2 linked regions of the Homo sapiens genome follow. The protein of the gene in region 2 purifies or fractionates together with the protein of the main gene of each other region. This does not show direct contact. Each region holds a gene or a part of one and is shown on either strand. Other genes may lie near its edges.

Evidence for each region.
Region 1: the proteins of MAP2 (region 2) and PRKAR2B purify together in Homo sapiens (affinity purification with mass spectrometry; 4 studies listed by BioGRID and IntAct, with this or other methods). This does not show direct contact.

Annotation. Positions count from the first base shown.
Region 1 is NC_000007.14:107,143,563-107,155,829, reverse strand, and holds part of PRKAR2B (cAMP-dependent protein kinase type II-beta regulatory subunit), read right to left. Parts: intron 9,523-12,267; coding exon 9,369-9,522; intron 4,909-9,368; coding exon 4,807-4,908; intron 2,654-4,806; coding exon 2,579-2,653; intron 1-2,578. UniProt on the Homo sapiens protein: Regulatory subunit of the cAMP-dependent protein kinases involved in cAMP signaling in cells. Type II regulatory chains mediate membrane association by binding to anchoring proteins, including the MAP2 kinase.
Region 2 is NC_000002.12:209,415,853-209,429,000, forward strand, and holds the start of MAP2 (microtubule-associated protein 2), read left to right. Parts: upstream 1-8,194; 5' UTR 8,195-8,424; intron 8,425-13,148. UniProt on the Homo sapiens protein: The exact function of MAP2 is unknown but MAPs may stabilize the microtubules against depolymerization. They also seem to have a stiffening effect on microtubules.

The sequences.
Region 1 (12,267 bases), on a different chromosome or scaffold from region 2:
AAATAGTGCTGCAATAAACATATGTGTGCATGTGTCTTTATAGCAGAATGATTTATATTCCTTTGGGTATATACCCAGTAATGGGTTTTCTGGGTCAAATGGTATTTCTGCCATTAAAAAGTGGGCAAAGGATATGAACGGACACTTCTCAAAAGAATCAAAAGAAGATATTTATGCAGCCAAAAAAAAAATGAAAAAAAGATCATTACTGATCATTAGAGAAATGCAAATCAAAACCATAATGAGAAACCATCTCACGCCAGTCAGAATGGCAATTATTAAAAAGTCAAGCAACGATAGATGCTGGTGAGGTTGTGGAGAAATAGGAATGCTTTTGCACTGTTGGTGGGAATGTAGATTGGTTCAACCATTTTGGAGGACAGTGTAGCAATTCCTCAGGGATCTAGAACCCGTATTTATTTATTTTTTTGTATTTTTATTAGAGATGGGGTTTCACCATGTTGGCCAGGCTGGTCTCGAACTCCTGACCTTGAAGTGATCTACCTGCCTCAGCCTCCCAAAGTGCTGGGATTACAGGCGTGAGCCACTGTGCCTGGCCTTGAAATAATATATTCTCTACCACTGTATTTCTGCTAAAAAACCAAGAAAATGTGGCAACACTGGGGTAAGAATTTCACCCAAATTTCAGCCTAGATAACAGCATACATAGTTGGAAATGGCAACACTGCTGTGTATGCCAGCAGCGTCCCCTTAGTTGGCAGAAACATGTCTGCGGATCCTGTGCTCCTGAGGAAGTGCCGAGACATGCACCCTGCGTCATCCTAACATCGCAAGCATTGGTGTGGTGACCCAAGATAAGCCATCAACTTGCAAAGAGCAGAAAGCATCCAGATGGAGCCGGAAGCAGCAGATGTGGGCCTTGACATTTTCACTACAGTCAACTGAGGACCAAACTCTGACATGCTAGCCTACTGACATTCCATTTCAAGGCTTTGGAAGGACTTCTAAAAGAAAAGTGTTGCTCTACCCATATACCTGTTCTTTCTTGCTTTTGTTTCTTAATGAACTCTGCCTTGATCTCCAATGATGCAGTCTGAATTAAACAATACAATATGGAAGATAATAATACAGACACTGACTTCTCTAAGCCTCTCAAAGTGATTCTGGAGAAACTTAAAATATTTCAAAACTCCTTAATACAAATTCAAGAAGTTTAGCATCTGATTCTATCACAAAAATAAATGTTGAATTTAGATTTTTAGAATATAGGGTGTATATGTATATTTATAAATGCTTAAAAGACAACAAATATGTAAGAATATCCTTAATAAACCCTAAGTATAGCATATCTCCTTTCCCTTATTCTTGTATCAGGTTTTCATAAAAGCTTCATATTAAGTTTTCGAGTGTTCTGAATCATAATAGGTCTATTAACTGCTGAGTAATTTTTAACTATTTTTAAAGCACGCTCTAAGTGTATGTAAAACTGGTGAAAACTGAATATGGTCTGTGAATTATGCCAATGTCATTTTCCTAGTTTTGATATTGTTATTAACAGTGATGCAAAACGCATTAGGAGAAACTGGGTGAAGAGTACACGGGACCTCTCAAAACTATTTTTGCAACTTCCTGTGAATCTATAATTATTTCAAAATAAAACCTTAAAAAATCATTTAAAACATGCTCTTTGCTTTGTTATTTACTAGTTTATACAGTAGAACTTTAACCTTGCTTGACTCCATTTCTTCCCAATCCCTGACTGCTCTAACACACACATACACACACACACACTCAGCAATGGGAGAGGGGTGTTGATCGAAAGATTTACTTATGTATTTGTCTTCTAAAACAATTCTTTTTCTCAGTCTCAAAGACCTTGAATCTTGTTTCCCATATAAAGGAAAAGACTGCATTTCAGATAAAGAGCACAAAACAGTATAAGGCTGTGATACAAAAATTACAGAATCTATTAAAAATCCATTTTAATCATTTGCTTAGTGCTTCAAAAATATAACTAGGAAACAAGGTACTATCATCTGCATGCTTTACCTGTGAACTTCAACAGTCTTCACAAATTCTACTTTTGGTAGCCCTACTCCAACCCAGGTATCTAATATTATTGGTTCCAGCTGGGATCTTAGAAAAGTATTAGGGATTAAATAACATGTTGACCCACATGTAGTCTTGGAAGCCAAAACAGTATATGTTGCAGTGTGTTCCTTTCTTGGTGAATTTTATCAAGGAGCAGCCTCAGGAATTTTCATCATGAACTGATCATGCAAAACTCTATAGAATTTTCCAGTGTACTTTCTGGGTCCTCATTAATGTCATGGAACATTCACCTGTTTTTTCCTCTTATAAATGACTACAATGATGCAGAAAACCATTTGATGGTTTAATACACCTTCATTAGGAGTTAATTACATAAACAAAAATATTCAATAGAGTAATGACTATAAATGAAACCATTTTTAACAGGTCATTTGGTAGAAGTAATATTTATTTAACCCATCACTGCATACTAATTTTAGAAATATGAAAAGTTTATCAAGATCTACCACTACAGGAACCTTTTGGAATATAACCCTAAACTGAATTACATTTCAAAATATCATACCTGAGCAATGATTTGTTCTCCATCGTTGTATACTTTGGTGCCTATCACATCTACTACTTTCAGGCGTTCAGAAAACTACAAAGAAAGAAAAACAATATTAAATAGAAACAAATTAACTGGGTAAGCTTATCTAGTTCGGGAGTAAAAAACTGGTAGCCTATAGGCCAAATAAATCGAGCAGTGTGTAGGTTGTATATGTGTTTGTTGTATTAATTACCAGCCAGCATTTTAAAATAATTTTTCATAAAAATTCAATCTCCAGCTTCTCTTGAAAAATCAGCATCACATAGCCCATATTTCCACATGGCAACAATAAAACTATGGTGGGATAGCAGCTGTTTCTTTAATGAAATACATGTTCTCCAATCTGCCAAAGTCCCTTCCTGGCTTGGTTTTCTTCTCTGTGTTACCTGCCTAGCTCTGAAGGCACCAGATTTCCAATCCCTGACCTACTCTTATTTAAAGAAATATGCTGCTGGAAAAGATCAGCTGTCTACCACGCACTGTGTGATGTGGACAAAATTTTTACCAGATGTAAGCTGATAATCCAACAGAGACATTCAAAAGGAGAAGCACTGCTGTTTTGACACTTGCCATTTTATAAGATGTTGTGGGTACATATATATGCCTGTCTTTAATTACTCTCAAAATACTTCAAATATGACAGTGAAATAGAAAAGCATTTAATTTAATGATGAAGTATGGAAAATGAAGCTGAATTTTTAGGGTAACAACAACCTACTCTCTCTCATAAGTCTCTACCTTCAAAGATAAAAACCTAAGAGCTGGTCTCATTGAGAAGACCTCTGGGCTGAGAAATGAAGGAGCCCTGCAGCTGTGTAGGAAGACATTCCAGACAGACGGCAAGTACAAAGACCCCGAAGTGGGTGTGGGACAGGTGTGTTTGAGGAGTGGCAAGAAGCTGATGTGTCAACAGAGAGATGATGAGTGTGGAGCAGTAGGAAATGAGGTTGGGGAAAATGGGTGGGGGAATGGGACAGTCTGTGCAGAGCCTTAGAGGCCATGTGAGGAGGAGCTTAAATAGAGCAGTGCCACAACCAGGGATTTTAAAAGATGACTCTGCAATTAGCCAGGCAAGAGGTGATGGTGGTTCATATGAGTCAGTGCTAACTCGAAGGTTTTTGGCCTGAGACACTGGAAGGATATGTTGCCATCTGCGGGGAAAGAGAAAAGGAGTAGATTTGGGACATACTAGGTTTGAGATGTCTATTAGACATCTGAGAGGAAATCTTACATTTGCAGTTGGATAAGTAAGTCTGACCTTCAAGGGAGGGGCCTTGCCCAGTGATATCAATTTTAAGAAGCATCAATATATGGACAGTACAGGTGGTCCCTGACTTACAGTGGCTTGATTAATGATTTTTCAACCTTACAGTTGTTTGAAAGCGATAGAAACTATACTTCTAATTTTGAGTTTCGATCTTCTCCCAGGCTAGCGATATGCAGTACAACGCCAGGCAGAGAGCCACAACGCCCAGCCAGCCTCACCACAATGAGGTGAACAACCCATGCTCTCCAGTGCACTGTGCTGCCAGGTGACTGTTCCCAGCTGTAGGCTGATGTGAGTGTCCTAAGCATGTTTCAGGTAGGCTAGGCTGAGCTCGAATGTTCCATAGTTTAGGTGTATTAAATACATTTTCTATTTATGATATTTTCAACTCACAATGGGTTTATTCGTAAGGTAACCCCATAGTAAGTCAAGGGACATCTGTATTTAAGGCCATGGGATTCGACATGTTCACCAAGTGAATAAGTGTATCCTGAAAAGAGAAGAGGCCAAGGACAGAGGCCTGGAATGCCAGTTTTAAGAGGAGAAGAAAAGAGGAATAAACAGCAAAGATGACTGAGAGGAAGAGGCCAGAGAGGACATTCTATATCTAGAGAACGCCTCACTGTAAAGTTACAACTAGTGGCTCTTGTCTACATCTATGTGATTATATTAAGTCTGCTATCAGATAAAGACCACATATAAATTTGCTATAGATGCTGGGTAGGAATGTATTACTTTCAAATAACAAAACAAATGAAATTATAGATAGCAGAAGAAACAATGAGTTATAAAAATTAGCACTACCATTTAATCTTTTCAAATAAAAACATGGATAGATTTTTTTTTATTCAAAGAAATTTTTCTATAGAACTAAATATTCCTAGCAAAACAGAAACTTTTAAAGCAAAATAAAATAAAAGCATAAACATATACTTACCTCCAAAGATTTAAGGAATGGCAGTGACTCAATAAAGCTTTCATACATTTTTCTCTTTTTGGCATTGTTTTTCACAATTATTCTCCTGAAGGTTACCCTGTCCTACAGGCAGAACAGTTAAAGGGTAAATTTTATGGGGGTAAAGCTATACAAATAGTTTTATTTTATTCCCTACAAGAAACAATGATTGAAGATTCTGAAATAAAAGATTAACATCATTATACTTTTAATGCAACTCATTTCATATTTTTATTTCGTCAAGCACAAAATATAATACAGAACCACATAAAATACTGTTTTCTTTTTTTTTTTTTTTTTTTTTTTTAAAGAAAGCATCTGTTGACTTTTTATACATAACAGAAATCTGACCAATATGTTGGGTTCTGCCCACAAGGAGGCGCTGTCACAGCATTTTTAAATATGTATACTAGCACTCTGTTCTTTTACTCTGTTATGTACTCTACGTTCTTTTTCATATCCACATTATGTCAAAATTTTCTTGTCAAAAATGTGGAGGGATGCCCAAAGAAATTATAAATGCTTAAAGTGATGGCTACTCCATTTACCCTGATGTGATCATTATATATTGTATGCTGTTATCGAAATAGCTTATGTACCCTGTAAATATATACACATAATATGTACTCATAAAAAAAATTTTTATTTAATGTGAAGGCACAGAGAAACTACAACTATGTTTTTGAGTAAGATCTAATTCCAGTGTTTACCATGTTCACAGTCTAAAATGTTCCTGTTTATACTATCATGCCCTCAAAGATACAGAACTCGGTTGAAGAACTAGTAAAAATTTTAAGGATACAGCTCAAAACATTATTTTCCTAAAAATTTTATTTTAAATAATTTCTCATAAAATATTTTAATTCTTTAATAAAAGCCTCAATAATTATGTTAGATTGGCATTCATTAATAAACAATTATACCATTTTAATAAAGTAAAAATTGGGATATATTATTTAATAAATTACTATGCCAATATTTTAATTTTTTTTTACTTTTATTTTTAATTTTTGTGGGTACATAGTAGGTGTATATTTATGGGGTACATGAGATGTTCTGATACAGGCATGCAACATGAAATATGCACATCATAGAGAATGGGGTATCTGCCCCCTCAAGCATCTATCCTTTGAGTTACAAAAAATCCAATTACATTTATTTTAAAATATACAATTTTATTATTGACTATGGTCACCCTATTGTGCTACCAAATACTAGGTCTTATTCATTCTTTCTTATGCCAACATAATAAGGCTGAATTTAAATGAACTAGTGCAATGGAGAAAAATGCCAGTATAGATGAAAGTCTCTAGGTGTGATGGACTGCAACTGAATGTTTCTATCACTCTAAAATCCCTCTGTTGAAATCCTAATCACCCAGGATAGTATTAGGTGGTGGAGCCTTTGGAAGATGGTTAGGTCATGAGGCTGGAGCCCTCATGAATGGGATTAATGTCCTTATAAAAGAGATCCCAATGAGCTCCCTTGCCCCTTCCACCATGTGAGAACACAAGTAGAAGACGCTGTCTGTTAAACAGGAAAACAAGCCCTCACCAGACACCGAATCTTCTGGTGCCTTGATCTTGGACTTCTCAGCGTCCAGACCATGAGAAATAAATGTATGCTGCTTAAGCCACCCATTCTATAACAGTCTGTCATAGCACCCCAAAAGGACTAAGACACTAGGAAATTAAACATCTTGTTTCCCAATTTGGTATTGGCTGTAATTTGGACTTGTTTTACTCCTAATACTTTTTTTAAAAGAAAATTTTACAAGATAATTAGCACAAATATTGAAATTATTTCCAAGCCTGGCTCTGCATCAGAATAAGCTATAGTATTAAAAAAGATTTCTGAGACACCAGACCTTAATGACTCAAGATCTCTGCATGTAGGGCTCAATAATTCATAAATGCTCCCAAAGTGATTCTGATATGTAATCAGGTTTGGAAATCAGGTATAACACCATTGTATGGACAGCGGTTATTGCAAAACAGAGAAGACTCAAAATAGCTTAATGATTTAGAAACTAATCATAATCAGTTATATCTCTCAGAAAGAATTTTCCATTAGTAACCTACCTCTTCACACCCACTGTGACATATAAAGTCCAGAATTTCAAATACTTTCATCCTGAAGCCATTTCAAAAATCACCTTTCCAAATCATCAGTATAGTCACGTAGATCATGTTAGCCCTAAGGCTAATAGTGACCAAATATTATTTACAGAGTGAGACTATTCTGCAATGGACTTTTCTCTTGGGCTTTTTTTGCTTATCTTTACACACCTGTATTTATAAGGCAGACCTCCAGTCTGTTGACCTTAAAAGAAAAATTTATTTTCTACTCGACTCTCCCTGAGAAGGAGTTATTATAATTAGTCAAGTCACCCTTAAAAAGTAGGCTTGAAATACTAAGTAATTATGTTAATTATTCTAACTTTTTTAGAAAGCTATTATATGTCAGGAGGATTATCACAAACTGCCCATTTTTATAAAATTTAATAACATGTATAGACTACTAAAAAGCTCTGAAAATGCTTAATCCTATCTTAGGAACTTAAGTAGTACGTGCACTAGGAAATTCTGGGTCTTTTATACCCCATTAAAGTTTCTACAAGGGCTAAAAACTATCAGTATTCAAAGAGGCCAACCTATAAAACAGTTGATCTTATTCTGAAGATGTGCAAGGAGGCAGTTTCCTCACTGTGTGACAATCTGACAATCTGAATCTGAACGGCAACCCCATTGGAATGACTACATTTGAAAAGTAAACCTTCCTGAATAAAACAGGTCATGGCAGATGCTAGATTTATCCCACCACTTTAATTACAGGCAGACAAAGACTTCTGTGGGTGAAGGACTGTCCTGGTTTGAAGTTTTTTCTTTGCTGGCTTTGGGTATTCAAATCACTGACAGTTCTTTCCTTTTCCTGAGACAATTCAGCTTTTCCTCTAAACCTTAAAAAAGTGACTCATCACATTTTTAAATAAGTATATAATAACTGGTTCCAATTAAAAGAAATGTAAAATGTCTTGTCTCTTTGATCAAGAGATATTTTTTATCAGCTGAATTGACTTCAGAGTCAAATGCTGAACTGTGACTAAATAATGTGTGACTTCCACAATGCTATATACAGTAGTCCTTGGAAATGAGACTTTTAACAGACTTCATATTTACTTCAACCTCTTCTCTTTCCACAAAAGGATTTGAGAGAAATAACCCAATAAATGCATGTCAAAACTAGTGGGTGGGCTATTTTCAACAATTTTAAAAGAAAATACATATACTGTAAACATTTCCCTAAATCGATGCTGTTTAAGGTTTGGCCTGACATCAGGCAGTACTGCCATCTCCTGGGAGCTGATGAGAAATGCAAAAATCACGGGCCTCACCCCAGAACCACTGAATCAGAATCTGCATTTTAACTGGATTCCCAGGTGATTTGTAAGCATATTAAAGTTTGAGAATCACTACCTTAAATACAATCCTCCAGAAGGAGCTTTAGTAGTGCCTAATAATTTGCATCCTATCATATGTGAAAATATTGCCCGAATGTATCTTTAAACCAGCTTTTAAGTCTTGCGGGAATACCACATTAAGAAATGTATTTAAAAGTACTAATGCTCAGGTCCCAGTGCTGAAGATTCTGATCAATTTGCCCATGGTGAGGTCTAGGTAAGAGGATTTTTTTTGAGACAGAGTCTCGCTCTGTCGCCCAGGCTGGAGTGCAGTGGTGCAATCTCAGCTTCACTGCAAGCTCCGCCTCCCGGGTTCATGCCATTCTCCTGCCTCAGCCTCCTGAGTAGCTGGGACTACAGGCACCCACGACCGTGCCCGGCTAATTTTTTGTATTTTTAGTAGAGACGGGGTTTCACCGTGGTCTCGATCTCCTGACCTCGTGGCTAGGTAAGAGGATTTTAAAAAAATACTCCAGGTAATTCTGATGTGGGGCACATGAGCACAGCCACCAAGCATTTTTTCCCTACACAACTGCTTTTAAATGCAGAGTAGTTACCAATCAATTTATAGCACCAAGAGCATCCTTTTATACTGGTTTCTCAAACTCCGAATTTCTGATGCAGTAGGTCAGAATCAGTGGGTGGGGCCCCAGAATGGGCATTTCTAAAAAGTTCCCAAGTGATACAGCTGCCAGTGTTCAGGGGACCACACTCTGGGAGCCACAACTTTATCAGATTATAATACTTACCTCAGAAAGCTATCTGAGAAAAAGTACTTAAGGCTGTGTTTGTATGGCTGGTTATTTTCTAAGAGTGGGTAAGACAGGAGCATTCTGAATCTGAGTGTCTTTCCTGGGCCACCAGGTCCCAAGCTCCTGACTGGACTGGAGGAGTGGGGGCAATGACATCAGGATCTGACTTAGTGAAGTCTTAGTGCCCTACAGTTCAGCATTCAGTGGCTGCTTAATAAATTACCTGATGACTGATGATCTTTAAATTAAAATACTACATGCGGCAATTTGTAACACCGTCATAGCAATTGCTACAAATCATAACATTCAGGTCAAATAAGTATTTTACTCACCAAACCCCACAGAGCACCAGGAGAGGTAGCAGTGATTGTAGCTGCTCTGGGTGTATTGTACATTAAGGCCAGTTCGCCGAAACTCCCACGATTATCATAGTTACCAACACATCTTCCAACACCATCACATTTCACATAAATATCAAATGTGCCTCTGTTGGACATATGTAGATTGGAGGTTAATTCAAATAAAATATCATTAAAATAAAACATTATTTCAGAAAAGAGCCCTGTGAAATAAAAATCTTATTTCCAGCCTGTTATCCCCTCCGATGACAATAAAGGGGAATCAATCTGTGCCATCTGTTCCAGACCATGTGCCTGCTGGGAAAAATGGGACTAAACAATAAAAATTTGGAATAAGGAATGATAAAACTATAACTAAAGACTACAACCAAATAGTATATGCATAAAAAACCATCTGGAGAGGCCGGGTCTCACACCTGTAATCACAGCACTTTGGGAGGCTGAGGCGGGTGGATCACCTGAGGTTAGGAGTTTGAGACCAGCCTGGCCAACATGGTGAAACCCTGTCTCTATTAAAAATACAAAATATTAGCCGGGTGTGATGGCGGGATCCCATAATCTCAGCTACTCGGGAGGCTGAGGCAGGAGAATCACTTGAACCTGGGAGACGGAGGTTGCAGTGAGCCGAGATTGTGCCACTGCACTCCAGCCTGGGTGACAAGAGCAAAACTCCAACTCAAAAAAAAAAAAAAAAAAAAAAATCATCTGAAGAGGCTGGGTGTGGTGGCTTACTTACATCTGTAATTCCAGCAATTTGGAAGTCCAAGGTAAGAGGATCACTTGAGCCTAGGAGTTCAAGACCAGCCTGGGCAACATAGCAAGATCCCATCTCTATAAAAAATTAACCTTAAAAAAAGAAAGAAAATCATCTGAAGAAACATTTATCAAATCACTGACTGTAGTTATCTAAAAGCATAAGAATAGTGAGGGATTCTAGGCATATTCGCTATCTAATTTAAGAGTTTCTGTTTGTAACATGAACATATTATTACTTTTGTGATCAGAAGAAAATAACTTTTTAAAAAGAATCTAGCTATAGCAATTTGGTTAGCCACTACTCTACAAAACTTACTAGGGTCCTTTATAATCTATAGCAGACGTTGGCAAACTATAGCCCACAAACTGGCTATCTGCTTTTGTAAATAAAGTTTCACTGCAATATAAACACTCTTGTTTGTTTATGTGTTATCTATGGCTGGTTTTATGCTACAACTGCAGAGTTGAGTAGTTACAACAGAGAACATATTGGCCTGCAAAGCCAAAAATATTTACTCTCTGGCCCTTTACTTTAGATCAACCCCCATTCTAAAGTTAAAAAGTAGAAATTCAGACTAGATATCTAACTCTGGTCTTTTTATAGTTTTTTGGTGCTTATCTTTTAACTGGGGTTCTTTTTCTAGGCAAATAAGGTTCAGTTTGCATGTCACTGCACTTCCTATTACCCAGACCCTATATTCACGTAAACTGCATTCTTTGTGTGGATGACTGACTTTCCGCATACTGTATTTTATCAGAGAACATGCTTTCAAGGCTTGCACCTGTGAGGGCAGATAGAAAAAATTCTTTGGCTTTATTCTGTTGACTAAACCCTAACACAGACAAAGAGTGGGGACGTGCTGCTAAAAAAAAAAAAAAAAAAAAAAAAAAAGTGGCTTTTAACATTAGAAAATTATTATGGGCCAGGCCTGGTACCTCATGCCTGTAATTCCAATGTTTTGGGAGGCCAAGGTGGGAGGATTTGAATCCAGGAGTTCAAGACCAGCCTGGGCAACATAGCAAGACTCTGTCTCTACAAAAAACCAAAAAATTAGTCAAGTATGGTGGCACATGCCTGTACTCCTAGCTACTTGGAAGGCTGAGGCAAGAGGATCGCTTGGGCCCAGGAGTTCAAGGCTGCAGTGAGCTGTGACTGCACCACTGCACTCGAGCCTAGGCAAGAAAGTGAGACACTCTCCCTGCCCCTCCAAAAAAGAAAGAAAAGGATTATTAATAATAAAGAAGCAATAACAGCAGAAACATGATAGACAGAAGAAAATAATTGGCTTTCATGGCCAGGCACAGTGGTTCACGCCTGTAATCCCAGAACTTTAGGAGGCCAAGGTGGGCAGATCACAAGGTCAGGAGTTTGAGACCAGCCTGGCCAACATGGTGAAACCCCGTCTCTACTAAAAATACAAAAAAATTAGCCAGGCGTGGTGGCAGTCACCTGTAATCCCAGCTACTCGGGAGGTTGAGGAAGAAGAATCACCTGAACCCAGGAGGACAGTGGGTGCAGTGAGCTGAGATTGCGCCACTGCACTCCAGCCTGGGCAACAAGAGCAAGACTCCGCCTCAAAAATAAATAAATAAATAAATAAATAAATAAATAAATAAATAAATAAGAAAAGAATTGGTTTTCAATGTCATTCACGGATAGAATGACTGTTTCAAGGGAAACTACTAGAATTTGTCCCATGGATAATCATTTTTCAAGTACAGGGTTAGTTTCCCTCATCCAAAATTCTTGGGACCAGAAGTGTTATAGATTTTAGATATTTTCAGATTTTAGAATATTTGCATATATAGAATGAGGTATCTTGGGAATGAGACCCAAGTCTAAATACAAAATCAGTTTATGTTTCATATATACCTTATACACACAGCCTCAATATAATTTTATTTAATATTTTGAGTAATTTTGTACATGAAACCAAATTTGTGTACATTGAACCACCAGAAAGCAAAGGTGTCATTATCTCAACCACCCATGTGGACAATCTGTGGTTGTTCAGCATTACCATCATTCCTGACTCTGAATTTATATGCTACCAATAAGCCATCATTTTTTACTTGTATTCACACATAAGTACTTAACAGTAAAAAATAAGACATA
Region 2 (13,148 bases):
CCAAAAAGCTGAAATATTTAGGTTTAAATTAACAAATTATGTACAAGATATATATGAGAATAACTATAAAACCCTGATGAAAGAAATCAAAGATCTAAATAAATGAATGTGGGAAGGCTCAATATTGTCAATATCTCAGTTCTTCTCAACTTGATATGTAAATTAAATGCAATCTCAATCAAAATCTCAGCAAGTTACTTTGTGGATATCTACAAACTTATCCTACAGTGATATGGAAAAGAGAACCAGAATGTCCAACACAATGTGTAAGTAGAAGAACAAGTTAGAGGACTGACACTATCCAATATTAATATTTACTATAAAACTATAGTAATGAAGACAGTGCAGTACTGGCAAAAACAAACAAACCAAAACAGACAAATAGACCAATAGAACAGAATAGAAAATGCAGAAATAGACCTGCACAAATATAGTAAATTGATCTTTGACAAAGAAAGAAAGGCAATACAATGGAGAGAAGATAATTTTTTCAACAAATGATGCTTAAACAATTGGACATGTGAAAGCAAAAAAATGAATCTAGATGCTAATCTTACCTCTTCCACAAAAATTAACTCAAAATTAATTATAGGCCTAAATGTAAAACACAAAGCAATTAAACTTTAATAGATAACATAAGAGAAAATCCTTGTGACCTTGTACTTGGTAATGAGTTTTTAGATACAAAACTAAAAGACAATCTATGAAAAACAAATTAATAAATTGGACTTCATTAAGATTAAAAAGCTCTTCTCTGTGAATATCACTATTAAGAAGATGAAAAGGTAAGCCACAGATTTGGAGAAAACATTTGTGAAACACATATTCGATAAAGGACTTGAATACAAAATATAAAGAAACTCTTGAAACTCAACAATAAGAAAATATGTAATTTAAAAAATGGGTAAAATATTTGAATAACTACTATACCAAGGAACATATACAGGCAGCAAATAAGCATATAAGGTGATGCTCAAAATTATATGTTACTAGGAAACTGCAAATTCAAACAACGAGATACCACTAATGCCTACTAGAACAGGTAAAATTCAAACACTGACAACAGCAAATGCTCTTGAGGACATGAAACAAAAGGAATTTTAATTCATCACCAGAGGAAAGGTGCAGCCACTTTGGAAGACAGTTTGGCAGTTTCTTACAAAGCTAAACATAATCTACCCTACAATCCAGAAATTGTGCTTCAGGTATTTACCCAAATGGGTTGAAAACTTATGTCAGCACAAAAACCTGAACATGAATGTTTACAGCAACTTTGTGCTTGCCAAAATTAGAAGCAAATAAAATGTACTTCAATAGCTGAATGGATAAACAAACTATGGGACATTTATACAATGGAATAACATTTAGTGATAAAATGAGCTATCAAGCCATGAAAGGGTATGAGGAATCTTAAATATTTACTGTTAAATGAAAGAAGAAAAGCTATATACCACATAATTTCAACTATATAACATTTGTGGGGTATTGAAAGACTGTAGGGAGGAATAAATGGAGTACAGTGTATTTTTTAAGGCAGTGAAAATATCTTGTATAATACCACAATGATGGGCACATGACACTATATATCTGGCAATACCCACAAAACTGTACAATACCAAGAGTGAACCATAATATAAATTGTGAGCTTTAATTAATAATAATGCCTCAATATTGGTTCCTCAATTTTAACAAAGGTACGTCACCCATGCAAGATGCAAATAGTAGGAGAAACCATGGGCAGGGGAAAGGAAATGCATGGAAACTCTCTGTACTTTCTGTTCTGTTTTTCTTTAAATGTAAAACTGCTTTAAGAAATAAAGCTTATTAATAATGTATATATTTTTCAAAAACTTCAAAAAATCTAATTAAATAGAGATCTATACCATGTTCATTGATTGGAAGACTCAATATTTTTAAGACAGCAATTCTGCCAAAATTGATCTACAGACCTGAGAAAATTCCAAAGAAAACATAATTTTTACTTAAATTGACAAGTTGACATCAATATTTGTATGGAAATGCAAAAGACTACAAGAGCCAAAAGAAATTTGTAAAAGAAGAATAAGATTGTATTACTTGCCATGTCTGATTATAAGATTTACCATAAAGCTAGAGTAATCAAAATAATGTGAAATTGTCATAAGAATCAATGACATGGCAGAGTTCAGGAACAGACCTATATATATATGACCAATTGATTTCTGACAAAGATGTTATGGTCATTCAATGAAGAAAGGATGGTCTTTTCACAAAATAATTCTGGAACAACTGATATCTATACGGAAAAAAATAATCAGTAATACCTTATATCATATCTACTAATTTGAAATAGATCATAGAAATTAAAACTATCAAATTTCTAGAAGAGAACAGAAAAAAAGTAGCTCTGGAGTAAATGAAAGATTTCTTAGATATGACCAAAAAAAACACAAAGCATAAAAAGAAAATTTGATTGAGGAAATAGGGCTTTATCAAAATTAAAGGAGTTCGCACTTCCAAAAGATGACATTTAGAAAATGAAATGCAAACAAAAAATTGGAGGAAAATATTATCAAAATATATTCCTTATATATTCCTTGTATATTGGAAGATACACAACCCAATTAAAAATTAGCAAAATATTAGAACAGACACTTCACAACACAAAATCTGATGCAAGAATAACCAACAAGAACACAGAGACATATTGGCATCATTGGTCATCAAGGAAATTTGGTTCTTCTCAATAATTTTAGTTTTTCTACTGAAATTCTCTATTTTTTTCACTTATATTTCCTTTACTTAATTGAGTATATTTATAGTAGCTGATTTTAACACTTTTCTATTAATTCCAACATCTGGGTCATCTAAAAATTAATTTCTGTTGATTGTCTTTTTTTCTTGAAACTGGGCCACATTTTCCTGGTTCTTTGAATGTTGAATAGCTTTCGGTGGTATCCTGGATGTTAAGTTGTGAAGACTCTGGATTTCATTATATCACTCCAGTGTTGAAGTTTTTGTTTTACTACTCATTTAATTTGGTTAGATTCACATTGCAACATTTGTCACTCGGGTAGCAACTCAAACCTCAGCTCAGTATTTGGTTATTGTTTTTGTTTGTTTTAATCTTTAACTGGGAAGCATTGAATCTGTTCCATATACACATGATTCAGGGATAAAGTGGAGATTTGTGCGTAGATTATACCTAGAAATTTGGACTATTCCAGTGTCTCTTCTTTTCAGTCTTCTATTTTCACTTTCCATCTCAGGACATTGTCCCAAACTCTATACTCTATTTCAGGAAAACTGTAATTTTTCTATGACTGTTTGCCCCTGGCAATACTGTGTGCAATCTTCTCTCAAGTTAAAAGGCATTGAATGTGCCATTCCTTCTTCCAAGCGTTGATTCCCCTTTAAAATATGCCTGTTTTGTTTACATTCCAGTGCTTTCTGGTTTTGGTTGTTTCACCCCTACAGGAGATGTTATCTGGGGGATGGTAAGGTCTAGTAAAAGTCTACTCAGCAGTACTGAAAACTTATACTTCAATAGTTTCTTAAAATGTTAAGCATTGTAATCCCAGCACTTTGGGAGGCCGAGGCGGGTGGATCATGAGGTCAGGAGATAGAGACCATCCTGGCTAACAAGGTGAAACCCCGTCTCTACTAAAAATACAAAAAATTAGCCGGGCGCGGTGGCGGGCGCCTGTAGTCCCAGCTACTCGGGAGGCTGAGGCAGGAGAATGGCGTGAACCCGGGAAGCGGAGCTTGCAGTGAGCCGAGATTGAGCCACTGCAGTCCGCAGTCCGGCCTGGGCGACAGAGCGAGACTCCGTCTCAAAAAAAAAAAAAAAAAAAATGTCAAGCATATATCTACCATTCGACCCAGAAATTTCGCTCTTGGGTATATGACTAAAAGAAACAACAACATATCCACAAAAAATCTTATATAAAAGTTCATAACAACCTTATTACTAACAAGCAGAAACTGAAAATAACCCCAAATGTCCACTAATTAGAAAATGGATATACAAAATATGGTATATCCATACAATAAAATACTACTGAACAATAAAAAGGAATAAACTGCAGATAACTTACAAAATAAAGAATACATCTCAAAAGTAATATGTGTGCAAAAGAAGCCAGATGTAGAATAATATATATTGTCTGAATCCTTTTATAGGAATTCCAAGAATATGCAAAGTGAAGCCACAGAGAAACATAATCAAAAGTGTAGTTACCTCTATGGGTTGGGGCTGAAGGTGTAGATTGAACATTTCTGATCTGTGCTTTTAACTGAATGTAAATTATACCTCAACAAAATTTTTGAACAGAATGATACATTTATGGTCCAGAAGAAGTCAATGGTAATTTCACCACCTGTTCAATGAACTAGGCATAGAATTGGAAATGGGAGACCATACTACAAAGCTCATTTTTAAATTTTAAAGCCATTGCAATGGTCAAAACTTGTGAAACATGATAGAAATTTTGATAGATGTGCCTCTAGTCATCCATAGAGAAAAGGTCAAGAAATTAAAAACAAAACACAAAAAGCCCATTTCACACATAGAAGGTAAAAGACTTATGTGTGTCTGCTCTTCAGTGTCATACCTGCATCTTGCATCCACATCTTTTCTATGATGGGCTGCACATTGTATCAGCATTGTTTGTGTATGTATGAACCTTGCTCATTGTTTCTCTAGGGGCCACTTAATTAATGTTCATCAACTTAATAAGCAAATCCTCAGCTGAGCTATAATTTCTCATAGCTTTATAAAACTAAAGTGACCTTAGGTGGCATGTGGTTGAGTCTCCTCATTTGCTAATAAAAATATTGAGGTTCAAAATGGTAGAGAGATGTACCCAAGGTCACACAAGCAGGGAACAGCAAATATGGGCCCTCAGATCTGACTTGAAGTCTGGTGCTCTTAACACTATGCAGTACAACCTCCTCAAAGGCTCACCTACTCCTTGACTCTCTGGGGAGAAGGTTTCATTACTTCCTATATACCAGTAGACCTTTCTCTAATCAGTAGAAATACATTTATTCTGATGGTTTTCTGACTGAGAAACTATCAGAAGTCCTGTCCCTGAGAAAAGGGTATGGTTGTTTATGTACGTAATCCTCCGGGCCAAATAAATACAAATCAAGAATTTAGCCTGAAGACAAGACAAGTAATTGTGGAAATCAATATTGGCAGGCTCTTTCTATCTGTGGTTTACTTTTTGGAGTCCAGCACTGTATTAGTCAAGGCTTCTTCAGTTGAAAATGACAGGAATCCAACTACAGCAAGCTTAGAAAAGAAACAAAAATCTATTGGCTTGAAAAATGGCATTTCTACCTTGAGACGTAGCAGGATCCATGGAGTCTTTCAAGTGTTCTTTCTCCATCTCTCAGCATTGCTTTTCTGCATGGAAGGAAATACAGTCACTGACAACTCTATACCTATACCATCCGATTCACTATTGTTCATATGACACATCTCATGGAAAAAAGCCTGATTGGAAATATTTGGGACATATGACCACCCTGTATCAATCACTATACATTAGGAGAACAGGTTCTACTATAGAGTTAGCCAGGGTCACATGTCCACCTCTGAGAAAGAGAAGAGAGGCACACATTTTACTAGCATATGGGGAATCATATGAAAAGGATCATTACTCTAAGGAAGGGATGCTTTGCTGAGGGAAAAAAAAAAGTTCACTTCAACACAAAGATCCCTCCTTAAACCAGAAGCCTAAACATATGGAGTCCCCTCCTAAAGTTGTTTGACATCCCAGGGCACTGACTCCTGCAAACTGTATTTCTTAGGCTGCTTTGTCAACTGACTTTCTTCTAGGTTCACCCAATGACAGGGTTTTGAAATACAGGTTAAAGGAGGGCCACAATATTTCTTTTCACTCTCAGCTTTTGGAGGACCCTCCAGCATTATCTGTCTCCCAGTAAGCATCTCCACTGTGGTCTCAGTTCCTTTAATGTAGCTTGTGCTCCTCATTCCTGGTAAAGCCTCCTCTCTAGCACTCCCCAGCCTGAGAGTGGTAGTACTTTCCTGCTAGTAACTATCATCGTGTTGCCTCATCATCCCCTAGTTGGCTTTTTAGTCATTTGAATCCTTTGTAATTTGTTCCCCATATTAAATTCTCTCTATTGAATTACAACATATAGATGCTATTTTTCTGAAAGAACTCTAAGATGTGTGTCGAGAGGAGGCAATCTCCCATATAAGGACCAGGTTCCCCAAAGAGAAAAGCCATTAGAGTTTGGCTGCCTCAGCTAATCTTAAAGTGGAGGAAAAAACAAACAAACAAACAAACAAACAAAAACAAAAAGTGCTGAGGAACACTGTACTTTAAACTATCAGAGAAATAATGTCTTTTTTATTGCTGTTTTTTAGAGACAGGGTCTCACTCTGTCACCCAGGCTGGAGTGCAGTGGTGTAATCATAACTCACTGCACCCTCAAACTTCTGGCTTCAAGCGATACTCCCTCCTGAGCTGCTGGGATTACAGGTGTGAGCCACCGCTCCTGGCCCTGGAAAATTACTCTCATTGAGCACCTGCGCCTGCATGCCTGGTCATGAATGTCAGCTGCTAACACTCTGGTAGCATGCCTACTCCTTCCTCCCATCCACATACTGTCTATGATTTCCTAGTCTCCTAAGACCTCCTTCTCAGTAAGGCCATCTTCCGAGGAGGAGCATCAACTCCTCCAACCTCCCAGCTCCTGGGTGTGCCTTGATACTTCCAAACTCACTGCAAGCGTCACTGGCACATGGTATGAAGCAGAGCGGGGGAGGCAGGACACAGAGCACTGGGTGTGACTGGGGAGGGCAGGCTTTCACAGCTTCCTCTGTGATGGTTTCTAATCCTTGCAGGCTCCCACCATTGGGTCTCTTTCCATCTGAAAATGGAGGAAATTAGACCAGCTGCCTAAAACATCAACTCTAATGTTCTAGGTTCTAAGATTCTGTGGTTAATTTAAGTGACAGAACCACATTATGGCTGCTGTTTCATCAGCACTGTGAAGACTGTACAAGCCACACCTCAGTATGTTGGCTGACCTTAAAAACACCTTGTCAGTACTTGATATAGACACTCGAAGTAATTCTAAGTTGCATCTTACTTTTCTTACTTACAATAAAATGCTGCTCTCTGATTATGAAGATTCATACTCCTTAGTACGAATGGTAAAGAATCATTTGTTTTCTCAGGTGGTCATTTCACTTTCAAAAGCATTTAAGAGGCAATTTTTTTAAGGGTGATATTTCAAGGTCAACACTTTCCGTGCTTTCTAATTCATTGTATTTGTATCATTCTTCAAAGATCCTTCATATTCATTATCTTTTTAAGCATAAGAGAATTGGGCTGTCATTTTTAGTTCTCATATGACACATGAATACACTGAGAGTTAGATTAAGTGAACTGTCTCTAGAGCATACGTCTGGCTATCTAGAATGTAATAACTATAAAGGGAGGGGATCTTTCTTATTAGGGTTGTGGGAAAGGTCTGTCACTGATGTTTCTAATGCTTAGAAGAGTGCCTGACACATAGTAGGTGTCAATAAACATTCGTTGACTCAATAAATGAATGAATCTAATTCGTGACAGAGCTGGGTCTAGAATTCTCTACTCCCTCAGCCATTGCTCCTTTAGTGCTGACAAGAGTTGTTCTATGTTCTCAAGCGCCCCACATTCCTTTGTCTTTTCTGGATGCACCTGTGGTTGGGTTTGTGAGGCGAGGCCAGTGAGCTTTCCTGGTGAGGTGCCACTGGCAACCCCGCCTCATAGCGACACAGGGGAGGGAAGCAGGGGGTCTGCGGAGGTTGCTCCCGAGAGACTAAAGCTGTTGCCCCCGATTTTCCAAGGACGCCAGTGAGGAAGGCCCGCCTGTCCCGCCGCCCGGGCACTGGCCTCACTTTGTCGCGGGAGGGGACCAGGGCTCTGGAGAAGGCCCGGGCCAGCGGCTGGGCGGGGCTCTCCGAGGCTCCCACCTCGCGGTCCCCGCCTGGCGGCCGGCGGCTGCGGCAGAAGGCGAAGCGGTCGTGCTCCCCCTCCCGGACACTGCGGCGGTGGCAGCGCCAGCCCCGCCGCGGCCGCCCACGGGCTCGCGGAGTCTGGCGGGACCTGCGCGGGGCGGGACCTGCGCGGGGCGGGGAGGAGGGGCCGAGGCGGAGCTGCTGCGCTGGGAGCCGGCTGGGGGCGCCGCTCTCAGTCTGGGGCGGGCGCTCGGGCTGCGCGGGCTCTGGGCAGCAGCAGCAGCAGCAGCAGCATCCTCTCTTCCTTTACTTCCCTTCCGCTTCTTTCTCTTCCTTCTCCTTCTTTTTCCCCCCCCTCCCCTTCTTCCCCTAACCCTTCTACCCCTCTCCTTTTTCTCCGGAGGGCGCTAAGTCCGTGAGCGGTGGCAGTCGCGACCGCGGGTGCATCCAGTTTCTGCGCCCAGGTAAGAGACCGTCCCCACCTCTGGCTCTATGTAGGGCGCCTCTCCTTTTGCCTCGGTCTCTGAGTAGAAAGAGATAGGAATGGGGAGGGGTTGTGTCTCGTCCTCTGGGACTCGCAGCAGGCAGTCTGGTAGTTGGTCGAGTGGCCAGCCGTGCACCTGGCGGAAGATTCGGGCCTGTCCTCTCCAGGTGTCACTGCGGAGCAGGGGGCCGGACGCTACTGGTACCTGAGCCCTGGCTTCGTAGAAGAGCGAGTGAGCTTGTTAGGTACCACTTTGAAACAACTGAAAACTTACGCCAGGTTAGAATACGTGTATCGAAAGCCAGTATTACCTGCGCTGTGGAAAGAAGGGGAGTGGATTCTACAAAGATAGTGGAAAATAGGAAATCGAGGTAGGGGATTTTTTTGTTCATCCAGCTGCAGAGAACTGCACACTGGGAAGTGAGTGAGTGAGGGAAGCCTTGTCCATTTCAAATCATGTTTCTCTGTAATTCCTTCAGAAACAGCTGGGAGAGGAGGACTGATATTTATAATTGTAGGAAAATGAAAAATAAATGCCTGGTGGTGTTGGAGGGCGGGGCACGAAGAAATGAGTCTGGTTAGGCTTCCACACAGTCGTTTTTCTTTTTAAACGTTGGGGGTGGACCTCTGAATCTACAGTGCATCTATTCTTTTCTTCCTTTTCTTTTTAAAAGGCTTTTTTGGTGGGGAGAGGAGGACTGCAGTGCTGGCTGCCTGCCTTCCCCCACCTCGTCTTTTGTTTAAGGATGGAAATTTCAAGAAAGAGTGTGTGGGGGGCTAGGAGTGGGGAGCTGTATATTTGGGTGTGTATAGGGGGAGGGGTATGGATGGAGTCAGAAAAAAAATCCTTGAAAACTGGAAATTAATGTTATTCTGCCTGGCATCCGGACTTCAGGATTTTTGTCAGAAAATAAAAAGCTTTCATTAGCAACAAGCCCGTTTGTGACAATTGCTGTGTGCCATCTGTCGTAAGCTCTTAGCACAATGCTTCCAGGACATAGACGCTTTAAAATTGAGTCCGGTGTAAAGGGTTTTTGTTTAAATGCCTAAACACACAAGTATGCACACAAATGTATAATACACTATATACATGTTACAAAAGGAAATAGGTACTTAAGAGACTGATTTTTTAAAATTGTATTTGAGGGTTTGGAAATTATGTTGTGAATAAAATCTGTAGTGCAAAACAAAAAAATATTGTTGGGTGGTATATAATTTTGGGTGTGAGGCAAAGGGATTGATGACTGTTGGTAAGGAACTAATTTAAATGTTAAAGGTATAATTTATTTTAAAATGATCAGTCTAGAAAAGGAAATGATTGCAAACTGAAATTGAGGTTTGCAGCCACAGTGAGGCGATGGAGAACAAAGCCTTCTATGTGAGCCACATTATGCAAAATGTCCCATGCATGAGCTGCAGGTACCAGCCCAGTTCAAAAGCATAGTTCTTTCACTATGTCATTTCACTGTGGACAATTATGATTTTTTTTGGCAGTCAAATAGATTGAATAAATAGAAGCCCTTTAGAATGCTTTTAATTTTATGCCCAGGGAAAAGATTACAGCCTTCCATCAGAATATAACACAAAGCAGCCCTTTAACCGGGCAATAGGTGTATTTTGGTAGAAATCCTTGTGAATTTGCAAATCATGGATGTTCCAAAAGCCCCAGCCCCATGCACACAAAGAACCCTTCCTTCAAGAAAAAAGGCATTTTTCTCATTCAGTAAGGATTATTATATTTGTGTGTGTATGTTTATGTTGATTTCCTGGTAATTTCATCTGATTATCATAGGTGTACATCTGCATTCATGATTTGTATATTATCAGAGCCATTGTGGCTTTAGGATCAGTGGTACATGCTGTTTATCTGTGGTTTATTTAATTTTAATTTTTCATATTTTACAGTTTGCTACAATATTATTTAATGTCCAAAGTTTTCTTTTTTAAAACCATAAGTAGAAAATTGCTTAACACACATCTGAAGATCTAAGTAATTTAAAAATAGAGCTACCTTTTATAAAATAATATTTTAGTTATATTAATTTTTATTTTATTTATCTCCTCTCTTATTTTTTTCCCTTTTCTAATCAAATAACCTGTTTCTTTATGGCTGCTTTAGTCTTCTATACTGCCATAGGAGGGCCAGTGTTTTCAAGAATTTTGAATTTAGGATTGTTCATTCTCTGCAGCACCTCTCAGGATGACTTGTTTACAGCACCTTCTCAGGGAGGAGACAGGGAAAGAATGTGCTGAAAGAGCATGACCCAGTGAAACTGGCACAGCCATTACCTCATCCTAGTAGGTACTTCAGATTCATTGAGAGAGCAGGCATCCTCTCAGTGGAAACCAAACACCAGGAGCACACCCATCTCAGGGCAAAAGCCTTTCTCTTCCCATAGCAGCCTTTACTAATGTCATTCCACTGAGGTTAAAGGGATATTTTCTCTTTTATGTATTCCTTTTCAGGGATCTTGAACTTGGTTAGAAATATGTAGCCAGAAATGAAACTTGGCACAGAATCCTCTAAGCCTGAAGGAATAATTTCATTCCTTTACCCCTTTTGGTTTAAACCAGTTCGCAAATTTTCTAAACATCAGAAGGGAAAAGGAAGAAAAATGTTGGTGTATTTTTGTGTATTTTCTTATCACACACACATATTTTGTATTGAATTTTACTAGCAGTTAGACAACAGACTGGACATGCTATTAACAAATGTAGTTGCACTGTTGGCATTTTAAAAAATCATTATTACATTTGCTTATAGGACAATAGGTGCATCCTTCAGTGATTCATTGATGTCCTTTTGAGACTGACCATATGAAACTGACATGGGGATTTTAGTATTCAAGTTGGTAACTCTGATTATTGAATCCTTTCAATACTTAATTTCCTCTTAACAGATTAAGATAAAGAATCTGAAATAATAGTTACAGTAGAAGATAGCACCACCCCCAGATCAATACTATCCTCCTTAATGCTAAAAGTAGTCACTTTAGGTAAGTCATTAGTAAATGCATGAACCTGAAGATAACAGTTTTGAAACAATCTCAAATTTTTTTGTCTCTGTTATAGATTAGTTAAAGATGCTAATAAACTCTTTGAGTCATATCTGATTCTCTCAGATATATCAAGTGTTTTTGCTACTTTAATTATCTCTTTACTATTGCCATTACCTTTATCTACTCAATCTAGACCTTTTCATGTAAGGACTGTATTTTGATCATTTCACCATATTTTCCCTCCCTTCACATCATTCTTTTTAATTCGACATTTGGATGTTAGACTTACTGTTCTCTAGCTATTTTGGTTTCAGTAATGTTACTCTCTTGATACAAATTTGGCCTTTATTTTTCATTAAGGAGAGCACTTATTACCATTTATGTATTTATTTATTCATTATGAGAAACAACTTTTGATATTCTCAGTTTTCAATTGCAGAAAATGATTCTAGGCACCAAAAGCAGTTAAAAGTCTGCAAATTAATATGTAGTACACAAAAGGCCAAAGTCAAGGGAGACAGTCTGTATGAAGGTTTGGGTGGGTGGGTAGGTGGGTGGGCGTAGAGGAAGATGTGGAATGAAAGCAAATTCTCAGCTATTAAAAGCTGTCCATGTAGGGTAGAGATGAGCCTTTTTGTCTAAGAGGGTGAAGAAGGAATAAATGTTTTGTTTTTCTGTTTCAACATATTTTGTCCCCATCCCTCCCCTGTCATGTCTTTGAACTAAGGCCATGGTGCTTCCTTATAAAAATTATACAGTATGTTTATTGGAAGGAGTTTTACAGTGAATTAGGTGAATTCAGAATTTTAAAATGATGTGAACACAATTAGATGAATTTTTATGAAAAACACTTTGAATCTAATCTTTGATCTTTCCTGTTCAAGACATAAGCTTTCCTTTGAATGGTAGTACTTTAACTGTAATACATTTTACTTAAACATTTCAGTAAAATTCTATGGAAAGTTAGACAAAATAAAGAGCTCAGGATCCTCTTTCAGTCTACTGTTAAGTTTATATTGTGGAAGTTGGGGAAAGTTTTAGACAGTTTGTTTTCCGTTAAAACACACACTAGAGGGGGCAAATTTCTTTTTTTTTTTTTTTGCTTTTTGTTATGTTAATGAGCAAATAATTTACTTTTAAGATCACATACCTTGACTTTTTTCTTTCCTTTTTTGTCTTCTTTCCATTCTCCTCTTTCCCTTTTCTTTTCTTCTTTACTTAGATTGCTCCTTTCTTTCAGTTTGTATTGGCAAAATAAACATTGGTCTTTAGAAAATGAAATTATAGCCTGATATTCTTATTGAAATTTATTTTTCATTATATTTATATTTCTCATTTAACATGAAGTTTTATGCTAACCTCTCCTCCTTCTCAAGGCTCCATCCCTATCTTGGTCCTTTCTTTGAACTTGGCTTTTATATCCCCTAGGCTTCAACAGTTTTTTCCTTGTATACCAATCTTTCATAACGCTTTGTACCTCAAAAAGGCCTTTAAAAACCAGAAGAAAAGTTACTACCCTATTTCTCCCGATTAGTTTGTATCCAAGTTTATTCAGGTTCCCTTAGGTTATAGGTAATTGCTCGCCTCAATGTGTCCTCATTAGCCTTCTTTGAATTACTTTATTTTATTTTATTTATTTATTTATTTATTTATTTATTTATTTATTTATTTATTTTGAGACGGAGTCTCGCTCTTTCGCCCAGGC